Linked DNA regions of Homo sapiens: all the other regions are linked to region 2. Evidence: fine-mapped expression QTL. A gene starts in region 2. Each other region holds a variant in brackets. All regions are shown on one strand. Distances are from middle to middle.

Region 1 (4,250 bases), 24 kb before region 2:
TGAAAACTTGTGTGTGGAGCAAGTTGGTCTCCCTAGTGAGAGTCTGTTTCACCAAAAGCGATCAGAGAATGTTGATCATAGTTACCCAAAAGAACACATGCTACAGGTGGATATGAAATGAGGAATGGACAAAAACAAGCTGCTAGAGCACATAACTTTTCATTATGTATGTTAGGTATTTCTTTCTTTAATAAGGGTGAAATACTGAAGATCTAGTAAAAAGAGACTATTAACCAACAACTAAATTGTCTGGAATCAGGAGGGAGTAATCTCATACTAAGAAATAGTCCTATTCACATGTGAATTAAACATTAAGTTATTTCTTTGCAGGTATTTTGGAAATAAGTAATACATTTTCAATACACCTTTTAAGATATATCTTGTGGTAGAAATAGATTAGTCCTAAAAGGTGTTATTTTTTCCTACCATAGGGGCTGGTTGTTAACAATGCTCATAATATTATAACAAGCATGTTCAGATGATTAATTAATGTTGGAAATTCATCTTTCACCCAGACTCTAAACCAGAGAAACTACTTCCACAGGAAGCCTAATTACCACTCAGATAAACTAGTCAGTAAAAGTGACAGAAGTTTTACACCCCTGCAACTTGGTAAGGTAGAATACAAGCAGATTGCAAAAAAAAAAAAAAAAAAAAAAAAAAGCTGCCCATACTCTCAGAGCAAATCCAGGTGTAAAACCAATTTATGTTTCAAGTGCCTACCCATGCTGATCTAGCCAGGGTTATATAGATAATGTTAAGTGTAATTTATGGTTGAGGCAGATTTGTTTGGCAATACTGAAGGTTTTCTGTGGGAAGTTAGAAAAGATAGAGGCCTCCAAAAGCTATCACGACTTTAGGAAAAGTTTGGTTGATGACAGGTACAGAAGATGTGGTTTTTCACTCTTAGCTAAGAGTGCCTAAGTAGGCATGGCATCCAGGATTAGCTCTATGTGTGGCAGTGTGGTGACAGTCACGTGGTGATATGGTTTGGTTTTGTCCCACCCAAATCTCATCTTGAATTGTAACTCCCACAATTTCCATGTGTTGTGAGAGGAACCTGGTGGGAGGTAAATGAATCGTGGTGGGGGGCGGGGGGGGTCTTTCCCATGCCATTCCCATGATAGTGAATAAGTCTCGCAAGATCTGATGGTTTTATAAAGGGGAGTTTCCCTGCACAAGCTCTCTTCTCTCATCTGCCACCATGTGAGACGTGACTTTCATCTTCTGCCATGATTGTGAGGCCTCCCCAGCCATGTGGAAGGCATACCAAGTCTCGGGGATGTCTTTATCGGCAGTGTGAAAATGGACTAATACACGTGGCAATTCTAGAGGAGCAGAGAATCAAGCTATAGACTTTAGCAGGAAACTACTGGGATGGCAGGAAAATGACTGCAGTTCTGATGGCATTGGGAAGAGAGGGCAAGGAACAAAAGAAGACAAAACTCAGCAAGGCTCAGAAGCTCTAGTACTGGGGCAGCTGTTGAAAACAAAGAGCATCTAACCATGGTGTATGGCACTGGAGGGACAGTTATGAACTGAGATCATGAGGGAAATTCTGTCAAAAACAAAGCACAGATCTTCAGAAATTTCCAGACTCTAGAGATATGGAAAAGAGAGAAGATCATAAGCTGGAATACAGAAAAGGACCCCTCCAGTATCCAGCACTCTGGGGCTGGCAGGCCAGGTAAATCCTGGGAATATAAGAGACCAGGTTGGTTAGAATCTGGTTGGGCAAGAAGGATGACTACCCCAGAAATAATCAAGAGTTGCAGAACTTGTTTCACTCAATAACAAAAATCTGCTGAGTCTTTACTCTAAGCACCATGGTAGGCTCGGAGACGATAAAGATTAAATCAGAAATAATCTCATTCTTCCAGCATG[G/A]GCTACATAGTGATATCCCATCTCTACAAAAATATTTTTAAAAAATGAGTCTAGTAGGCATGGTGGCTTATACCTAGAGTACCAGCTATTCAGAAAACTGAGGCAGGATGATCGCTTGATCCCAGGAGTTTGAGGTTGCAGTGAGCCATGATTGCACCATTGCACTGTAGCCTGGCTGACAGAGCAAGACTGTGTCTCAAGGAAAAAAAAAAAAAAAGAAACATCCTTATTCTTGAGAAGTACATTTAATCTAAAAAGGGAGGTGGCAGAGGCATAAATGTCAAATATCAAAATGCTACAGAGGGGCTACCTAACTTAACTTAGAACAATCAAGGAAGGCTTCCTAGAGGAAATGGCACTTGAATTAAAACTGGAAAGAGGATTAATAAGAGTAAAGTGGCCAGAAGTTGTGACTCATGCCTATAATCCCGGTGCTTTGGAGGGATTACAGGCATGAGCTGAAGGTGAGGATGATCCCTGCAGCTCAGGAGTTTGAGATCAATCTGGGCAACATTGCAAGATCCCATCTCTATGAAAAACAAACAAACAAACAAACAACAACAAAAAAGCAATGTGGTGGTGCATGCCGGTAGTCCCAGTTACTCAGAAGGTTGAGGCCAGAGGATTGCTTGAGCCCAGGAGATTGAGGCTGCAGTGAGCCATGATTGTGCCACTGCACTCAGCCTGGACAACAGAGCAAGACCCTGTCTCAAAAAAGAGAGAAAGAGTAAAGAAGTGAGAAAGTACTGTAGTTAAAAGTGACATAAGCAAAGGAAAAAATATTGCAAATAAATATGTGAGATGTATATGTGTGCTTGTGTCAAGGAATGGGAAAGACTGAAATTTGTTGGGTATTTGGATATAAATTCAAGGCAGGAAGTAGCACACGAAGTGGCATAAACATGAATGGAATATACATAGGGGGAATACCTGAAAGCAATTATTATGTCATGCTAAGGAGCTTGGTTTTATCCTATAGTAGGTGATAGGGAAAGGTTATGATCAAGGTCATTCCTTAGATGTGGCTATTGAAGAGTGTGGAAGACAATTTGAGGTCAACAAGGCCAGAGGCAAAGAGATCAGTTGGGTGGTAGTCCTCAAACTCAAGCTTGGAGCAAAAGAATGAAGATGAAGTTGAAAAATAGTTAAGCAGTTAGGAGGTAGCATAACCAGGACTATGATTCAATGTTCCCTTGAGGGACAAGGCTGCCTTACAATGGGTATCTGGTTTCCAGCTCAGGGAACATTAGTTCCATTGATTGAAATAAAAATGAATGAGGAAGAATGGGTTATAGGGTAGGAAAGATAATGCTGAGATTCTCATAAAAATCACAAAATTGTGCATTGAACAGTTGAATACAAGAGTATAAAACTCAATAAAAAGCTCAACTACGGAAAGCAGATGTGAGTCAATGAGAAATGAATAATTATTTGGGCATAAAGTATTTGTGATGGTTTTTTCAAACTGAAGGTTTTTTGGGGAAGAGGGTAAAACCTCTAGCAGTCCTACCCATATTGAACTTTGCTAGCTACAGTGGAGAGATGAGTAGTTGGATGCTTATTCTACTTGGCAGAGGCGAGGACTGGTGCAAGAGATGAACATCGCAATCATTTAACAATTATAGGTAAACAAATATCGATCAGCAATTATAATTTAACAATTATAGATTGCCCTGGAATATGGATTGATAAAGGAATGTAAATATTATTCTAATTAGAATCCTAAATGATTCCATGCCCCATTGAGTCCTGCAAAAATTGCATGATGATGATTTGGAAGCAAATGTACTTTTCAACATTGGGAGTGTTTAAGAATAAGCTATATAATTGCTGAGCAGGGTTGTTACCATAGAAATCTCTGCTAGAGAACAGAGTAGGTAATTATTTAATGGACCATTAAGTAAGAGCATCATAAATTCCGGACAAATTTTAGGAACTATTATTTTCTGATTCATTGACTTTATATAAAATATCAAAGGTGTAGAGTTAAGTCACATATTTTAAAAATCTAATAAGTCAAATTTAAACAATTGAATAAATCACTATGTGCATTAAAGCAGGCTTGTCTTAGTAAGTAATTACAATAACTTTCAAGATTGTTTTCCGCTATAAGATTTGCTGTTGAATCCCCTGATTAGCACAGAATTTGGTACTTGCTTGGGCACTATATACATGTGCTTTTTTCTTTTTTTCTGTTTGAGACAGGGTCTTTCTCTGCTGCTCAGGCTGGAGTGCAGTGGTGTGATTATGGCTCACTGCAGTCTAAATCTCCTGGGCCAAAGCGATTCTCTCACCTCAGCCTCCTGAGAAGCAGGGACTATAGGTATACACCACCATGCCCAGGCTTCTCTTGAATTCCTGGGCTC
Region 2 (4,250 bases):
AGTAACCAAAGATAAATCACATTTTAATTCCCAAGTGACACAACTTTTTGTCACAGTTCCTTGGAATTTCTACTGGAGGGTTATATATTATGATATAACACTTTACACAGTGCTTGGTATACAGTAAATCTAGGTAATGGTTTTGGCAAGGATTTTATGTTTATGTTTTGTTTTTACTTCTTCCCAGGAGACTCCTGCTTTCAAGTCAGTTCATTAATCATTATCATTCTCATCTACAGGAGGTAGGAATTAGTATCCTCATTTTGTAAATGAGACTACTGAAGATGAATGAGATTAAATGATTTGCCCAAGGCCTCCATGTTGGACTGTGATTTTGTAAAAAGGCAGAGCAAATTCTGTTAGTTCTACATAGGAGATGGGAGATCACAGCAGGTTGATAGAATCTAGAAGGGGCAAAATGGAGATGAGAACTTAGAAGTAGAAATGGAAACAATGAAGATGTCAAGAAAGGCAAAGTCAAGACAGGTGAGAGCAAGACCCAGCTTTGGGGATTTGGATTGGCAGGGCCAACCCTGCAAACCAGCTCAGCCAGAAGAGGGGCAAGGCACCTTCATTATGGGTCAATGCTTTGGAGTTTGAAGGGGGAAAGTGGAGAGTCCCTGGGAACCTAAGCAACCCAGGAAGAAGAGGGTCAACGATAGCAGATCTCATGGAAAAAGTATTTATGGAAGTATGTTTTTTACCTACTGCCATTGTGAATTGTCTGACAGTTTCACCATGAGGTACAGAGCAGCAGGAAGGCTACTCAGAATCAATCTCATTTCTAGGGTGAAGACTCTTGTATGTCCTGATGGGATGACTTTCATAGAAGAACAGCCTGCAGATAATAATGGGTTACAATAAACTTACTGCTCCTGAAAGAACCAGCAACTAGTTTGTCCTAAAACCAATCTTCCCTTCTGATAAGTCCCAATGCCATGTAACCATTGGATACTTATCATTTGTTATATAATGAGTTACGTTTTCATATATTTATGCTAACTCTCTAACTTGACTATATATTCTACCAAGATAGAAGTAAATATTCCTTCCTCATTTTCCTATGGATATAAATTTATACATTGTACCTATTTAATCAAATACTTGACTGGTTGGATGCCTGCATCAAATGCAGACATGACTCCCCCCAAAATGGGCTTTGTAGGAGCCTATGTGGCAAAGATTAGGGTTCCTGGGAAGCCGAATCTGAGATGAAATTAAGAGCTCGTTATGTTAATTAAGGTGCATCCTTGGATTCAACACCTCTCGAGTTAGGGGAAGGAAGCAGACAGGGCAGAGAAAGAAGTTGAGCTTCCACGGAGACCCATCACAGCTTCAGGGAATCTCATAGAGATTTCTAGAGCTAGAATGACCCTTCAGCATTTTCTCAGGTTGATTTGCAATGAACAGGCCCTTACACTCCCTCCTTGATCAGTTTTTGGATGTGGGCTCCCTGCAAAGGGATGTGTCCTTGGGCAAGGCTGCTCTCTGTAACAGAGGCAATCCTTGGAAGGGCAGCCAGCTTATGGCCATCTGCCAACAGCTGAAGAGCAACAAGTTCTTCAGTGAAGGAAGGCCTGGCCAGTGCAGCACTGGGCTCATTTATATTAGGTAACTCCAGGTAAATGTAAGTGCATTTCTTAGAGGTGGGATGAGGTACTTTGAAGTACCTCACTGAGTTTAAAGGCAAAGGTATTGATACCCACAGTTATATTCATTATTTCTGGTTGAGTTCAATTACACTGAATTTGAGATGGCAGTTTGAAAATTTACTGTCAGTAACTACCAAAAAAAAAAAAAAAGAAAGAGCAGAGCATTGTCTTCGCGATTATGCTGGGACACTTTCAGAGTAAGTCCCCAAGATACAAGGTCCAAAAAAAATACTGATGTGGTACTCAATTGTGGTTCTTTGTAGTCTCTTTCTAAGAGAACTTCAGCTGCATGTTGGATGGAAAACAATATGAAACAAGGGAGAGAGAGAAGAAACAGAGTTTGTTAATATTCTCTGCTAGATTCTGCAGAGGAATCACTTTATTTTGCAGTTGCAACTAGCTTAAGTTATGTAGCTAGAAGTTATGTAGCTAGAAAGCTGACTTGCACACTTAAAGCTAATGAAGAGAAATGCAGGTTTTCCGGGGTAGGTTCTTGGCACTTCTCTGCAAATAGGTAAAAGGGAATGGCAGATATTCAAGCTTAGGGAGCAAGCAGCAAGGACAGAGCCTTCCCCGTCTCTGTGTGTTGAAGTCAGCAGATAGCACACCTGCTGCTGCGTGAGTTCCTTCTGCCAAGCAGAGCAGCACAGCTGCAAGACACCCTGCTTCTGGCTCTGAGCTTTGCTTGTCTTCAGGGATGGAGCCCCTCCCAAGGCAAGTTCAACTGGGTTCTTTGGCAGCCGAAGTCTACACGGACCCTGCAGGGAGCGGTGGAGAAAAGTGAGTTTGACATGCTTGGAAATATTTAGATCTTGGATGTAAACTTCAAGGAAAATATTTACTCTGTTTGTTTTAATACCACAGAGGTTTGGATCCCGGGAATCTTCAGAGTACAAAAGGCTCTTGCCAAGGCACCAATTTAACAATTTGGTCAGTGACAAAAGGGCATCCTGTTTAACTAGTCTGAATTTAAATAGCATGTTTCCAATGTATTAGCATGTCTGTCTCATCTGTTTACAGAACTGTTTTCTTTAACCCCTGAATTTTGTGTTTGGTTTATGAATTTGCACAGAATCAAATACAGTTTTTTAATAGAAAGCAAGCAAAAAAGCGGATCATCACATAGTTGAAAGAGTTGCTACCCGGGCATTGACAATAAACTTCCCACGATTACTTGACCATTCAGAGCAACCAGATCCTTGTAGAAGGCTACAAGCTCTCTTTACTCATGGCTCTTGGTGAAAAATTCCTTACTGTCTCTTTGCTGGTGCTGAGAAATACTGCAGAATGCTAAAGGACTGTCCAATTATATTTTTGGCGAGTGAATTATGATAAAAGAGAAGCCTTTTGTAAATGTGACTTGAAAAGTGGCGTATTTTGTGTCCTCTCTTTGTGTTTTATGCAGAATCCCTACTGCAGGACACAACTTTCAGGACTCACACTGATTTCCCTTTAGTTTTCTGTTTTTGTTAGTCTGCAGCAGAGTGGGAAATAGTTACTGTAAAGGGAAGTCTTAAGAAAACATATCAGTTATGTGCACAATATGTGTACATATATGGAGGAAAAATAGACAAAAAAAGGAAACTGGCATCACAATGCTCTCTCTAAGGGCCTATAAGGGATGAACTGGGACTCCTTCCTGCCTTCGGATAGCACATCAGGCAGAGAAAATGTTAACCATTTTTCAACTCTCAGAAAAGCAGATTTCATGATGTCATACAATGTCCTATTCCACTGTCAGATTGCTTCCCCACTTTGGCAATTAAAAATAATTACACTTTTTTTTTTTTTTTTTTTGCTGTACTGCCAAGCCAATTTCTCCTATACAATTGTTTTTAGACATGGCGAATGAACAGCTGCTTTTCAATTATTGGACACAGTTGTATTTCAATTCTCTTTTAACAGCTGTGAAACAGAATTCCTATTCAGAATTTTATAACAGTAAACCACACAAAAAGACTACTGTTGTCTCTCTGCTAATGGAGATTTTGTGTCCCACTTCTTTTTCAGTACCATTTCCCAGATGCTGTCTATTATCTTTCCTCCATCTTTGCTTGACTGTTACTACCATGTGTATGATTCCAACCAAGTCTGATGTCTGCTGATTAAACTTTCTTTACAATACCTTGGTCATTTTTTCCCTCCGTCAGAAGAGAAAGTTATCCCACTTCTCCTAACCAGTTGACAATTAAGTGAAGAAAGAATTTTAATACCTAAATGGTCATTCTGTCACTACCCACTATTGTCACATTTCTTCTTAGTTGGATATCAGTCATAAGAACAATTAGAGTGGGAAAAAGTCAAACATGTAAAAATTTATATTTGCTAATAAACTAATTTGCGTGGGAGCCATTAGAGAAATATAGACTCATCTGCTTTACAGCAGCTTAGAACAGACAGAGATCTACCAGGCCAGTTAGTATAACTCTAATGCCTTTCATCTTGGAGAAAGGAAAACAAGCTAGAGTGGTTAAGTAATTTTTGTTTTCAGATAAACCATCTCTGTTGTAGCTTAGATATCCTAGAGCTCAATTCCCCAGTTTTAGTAGCTTCCTTATTCTGTTTTTTGGTGTGTTTTTTTTGGACGGAGTCTCGCTC
Region 3 (4,250 bases), 6.0 kb after region 2:
AAGTGGCTTCTTTGAGCCTACAAATGATATATATTTATACACACACACACACACACACACACACATGCAAACAAACACACACATGCATACATATACCATGCAGGGAAGATACATAGATACGGGAAAACATTTTAGACACCTGTTTGGTAAAGGAAAAAATGAGAGGCATGCAGCTGTTACTGAACCATAGCAATTTTGAAATCATGTTAGGCACATATTAAGGGTCCTATTATTTGGCTGGGAAAAAATCTTTCGTTTATTCCTAAATTATGCTCCCTAGAATCTCCTTTCTTCACTGTTCTCCATGGTTACTGATTCCAGCCTCTGAGAGATTCTTCTTTGTCTATCTTTCCCATGACCTTCAGGAAGTGGGATTGGAGATTATGTTTGGTGCTGATAAAAGCTGGGGGACCCAGCACTAATCTTAAAGCTTAAGAAGTCAATACTTTCAGTCCATGCTCATAGAATCCTTAGGGAAACAATTTTCCCCAAACTAACAGACATTGAAATTGTCTTGTTTCTAGTCAATTACATGTGCCAATAACTACATTTGAAGTTTTCTCAATGTGATAATTCTCATGACTGATTTATTTTTTGCTTCCTCATATACACCATTCTAAGCCACTCCCAACCTCCCTGAAGCTATCTGAAATAATATTTTTGAATACTGTTTCCTTAGTCTAATCCTTATATTAAATTGTCTGTTTTTTAACAATAATTTTATTTGATTGTTGTCATTCAGAGCCTTTTTCAATTTATCTTAATTAGGATGCAGAAGCACTCAGGTTTATTAACTCTAAAAGTTATTGATCTCTGGATACATATCCATTTCAATTTCTGCTTCAAAATAAGTCTGTTTTTGTCTGTGCTCATCTCTTTCTTGTAATACATTGCTAAGAAAGGCCAATAGTAGCAAATAGGCACTGTTACTCTCATATCAATCTCTTGTCCTCACGTCCAAAAACTACAGGCTTATAGGCTCATGAGGTGTGTTGTGCCTTTCTATTTAATGTATGAAGTGGTTTTACCATATGTTTTGCCATGAAACAACATGACCTGAACCTTCATTGTTCCAACCTCATCTATCAGCCTCCATGAGGCTATCTGAAATAATATTTGTGAATACTTATTTCCTTAATCTGATCTCTATCCTAAGGCTGCATTATAGGTTCTGGGATCCTTCCCTTTTCAGGGACAAATGGAAAAAAACAACAAGGATCACTTGTGGGATATTGTGATAAAATGGGCCTGAAATTGATTAACATCTTTTCTGCCCACATTCTGTTGGTCACAATTAAGTCATATGGCCATATTTAATTGCAAAGTGTGATAGAAAATGTATTTGTGTGTGTGTGTGTGTGTGTGTGTGTGTGTGCCCAGTGGGAAATGGCAATGGATTTTAGTGCATATGTGCAGTCTCTGTCACACCAAAAAGTACAAAACTAAGTATCTGGGTATGCCAAATTCAGCTATATTGTTAGACGGTATTGCTTAGAGCATTATGAACTATTATTGATAGTTACTGAACATTTAACAGCAAAAGATCTGTTGATAGTATGATATCAATGTGCAGACGATTTAAAAATCTTGAGGCATTCCAACTATCATACACAAATCAGAGGCAATTCATTTACTTAAGCTCATTATTGACTACCTATTATGTATTGGACTTTATGTTATGTGCTATGCAAAGAAAAAGCACAGGATATATCTGTAACCTCAAAAAGCTCTCAGTATTCCAGAAGAGGCAAACATACACACAAGTAACTAAAACACATTTTTTTGTTCTATTATGCAGTTATAAACATTATATAGGAGCACAGAAGAGGGAACTACTATGTCTAGTCTTATTTAAAAACAAAAGAAAACAGAGACAGCAAGAAAATAGTAACTATTAAGAATGCTGTGGTTTGTTTTTGTTTTTGTTTGGTTTTACTATGTAAATGAAGTATCTCATCAAATAAGGAAGACTTTATGAGCAGGGAGTTATCAAAATGCTGAACATGGCTGGACGCGGTGGCTTATGTCTGTAATCTCAGCACTTTGGGAAGCCGAGGCGGGCGGTGACCTGAGGTCAGGCGGGTGGTGACCTGAGGTCAGGAGTTCAAGACCAGCCTGGCCAACATGGTGAAATCCTGTCTCTACTAAAAAATACAAAAATTAGCCAGGCATGGTGGCAGGCGCCTGTAATCCCAGCTACCTGGGAGAGGCTGAGGCAGAAGAATCGCTTGAACCTGGGAGGTGGAGGTTGCAGTGAGCCAAGATTGCGCCATTGTACTCCAGCCTGGGAAACAAGAGTGAGACTTTGTCT[CAA/C]AAAAAAAAAAAAAAAAAAAAGTGCTGAACATGCTGCCCTGAAGAAGCAAAACCCAAAGGTGTTCAAAAAGGTCAGTGGTTTGTCTAATTCAATGTTTTGGGGAAGATATCTTGAAATCTTAAAATCCAGAACAATATTTAAAGTAAGAAAAGAAGCAAAGCCATTTTTTCCTCTTTGGTGGTTGTTATTGTTGACGTTGAAGAGTAACTGGAAAGAATAAGTTAAATGGTCAAAAGTTTGTTTTTGAGATGCCTGCAGTATGGCACTTGGGCAACCTCCCATGATGCTAGATCCCTGTTGGGTCTGACGAAGGCAGACATTCATTAAGCCTCTCACCACCAGTGGTTGGATCCCATCCACTTCATGCAAGTAGACAACCACAAGTATTTTATTCCGTATATCAGTACCAGAAGCTAGGAGCATGGAATGCACACAGTATGCTTTGAACCTCATAATTGTTCCTTGTAATAATAAATTTTTACATTTGAACCTGTGAGTTATCAAGGAAAAAAAAACAAAAAGCCACTTTGGTTAAGGGATAGACTTAAAATAACAGGAATTATGGAAATGGAAAAATACCACTTTTCTTTGTTGGCTCAAGGATTTATGTGTGGGGAAAAAATGATTCAGAGGTGATGGCCTTTCTTGGACATTAACAAACTGTAGAGGAGTTTGCGTCCCTGACAATGGATGGTGTGTAAAATCTAATGGTGGTGGGGGTGGGAGGAAGAGGCTGGATGTGGCAGAAAAAGAGAGGCTGAGCTTAGGCAGTTTTATACTTACAAAGGGAGAAATTGTTTGGATTTTTTTTCTTTTTTGGAAAGAATATCTATTGTTAAAAGTCACTTCAGCCTTTGCTAGAGAGTGAGAATAATTGGGCTTTAAAATATTAATAGAATATGAATATTGATGAAAAGTGAAATATCCTACAAACAACAGGCTTTTTCCAGCCAATTTGTTATACTCAACTCATGCCGATCGGATTCTGAGCTTTATACAAATAAACTTTAGATGGAAAATAAATCAAACATTTAAACATTAGAAATCTCATGACAAAAGAATAGAGAAACAAATAGACATTTCTTTCCTAAGAGTTGAAATTAAAGAAAAAATTCACAGTTGAAATTTCAATACATTAAAAAATTTCTAATGTAAAAACTTATTTTCTGTTGAAATGCAAACCACATATTACAGTGATAGTTACATTACATAGGGGATTGAGTTCATCTCTTAATGCCTCATGCAAATTTATAAGAAAATAATTAGCATAATTAACAATAATTTATTGGTCGATGTTATAGTAAATGTATAAATGAACAAATAAAAATAGCAGATATGCTAATGGAAACTGTTTAATTATGCTAATAATAAGAAAGTATCATAAGTTAAGATGTTATTTCACATATTAAATTATGGTAAACACAGAAAGAGAATGTTTAAAGCTAGCAAGAGTATCATCGGCCTGATTATCCTTCACTGATGATGATGTTATAAATTGGTAAAACTGTTTTAGGATGCAACTTGAAAACGTGTGTATTTGTTGATTGAATAAGCTGAATTTAGTGGATGAAATTGTGAAATGATTGTATTTTTCTTCTGCAACAGCCTGTTAAATTCTGTGTTGAATTTTCCATCCTTGCCCCCCGACAAAAACTTCTGATAAATTAATCAGTAGAGCTGATTACCAGTAGAGCTGATGTACAAAAGCCTAGTCAAAATTAAGAAACAAAACAAAACCAAACCACAAAATCTTTTATTGTCTCATCCTCTTTTAAGCTTCTCCCCTGGACCCCTGATGTGGGACTTGGAAAATTACAGTAAGGAAAGTAGATACTTCATTATTTTCCCACTTTATTCTTTCATCTTCCCTTACTCAAGATGTTATTTCTTGACCCCGTCTTGGTGATGTTGGGTAGATAAGAGAAACCAGGGTGGA

Which allele goes with the higher level. Positions count from the first base shown, and alleles are read on the strand shown. Sizes are in standard deviations (SD) of each study's normalised expression.
As copies of G replace A in region 1, the expression in thyroid of the gene that starts at base 2,302 in region 2 goes down (moderate effect, 0.61 SD a copy in GTEx).
For the expression in subcutaneous fat of the gene that starts at base 2,302 in region 2, allele CAA in region 3 goes with a lower level than allele C (large effect, 0.85 SD a copy in FUSION).

The links. PIP is the estimated chance that this variant, and not a neighbour inherited with it, causes the effect.
Region 1: its variant is the best candidate, but not a certain one, in a credible set for the expression of LINC01497 in thyroid (GTEx, PIP 0.86).
Region 3: its variant is the best candidate, but not a certain one, in a credible set for the expression of LINC01497 in subcutaneous fat (FUSION, PIP 0.82).

Annotation. Positions count from the first base shown.
Region 1 is chr17:69,935,386-69,939,635 of GRCh38, forward strand. No RefSeq gene overlaps it. Among named protein-coding and RNA genes, the nearest start is that of LINC01497, 24 kb to the right of the region's middle. The variant G/A (reference allele first, on the strand shown) is at 1,885.
Region 2 is chr17:69,959,406-69,963,655 of GRCh38, forward strand. It overlaps LINC01497 (long intergenic non-protein coding RNA 1497), which reads left to right and starts at 2,302. Exons shown (of 5, transcript NR_110875.1): 1 at 2,302-2,432.
Region 3 is chr17:69,965,362-69,969,611 of GRCh38, forward strand. The region is part of intron 2 of LINC01497 (long intergenic non-protein coding RNA 1497); the gene reads left to right. Among named protein-coding and RNA genes, the nearest start is that of LINC01497, 5.8 kb to the left of the region's middle. The variant CAA/C (reference allele first, on the strand shown) is at 2,312.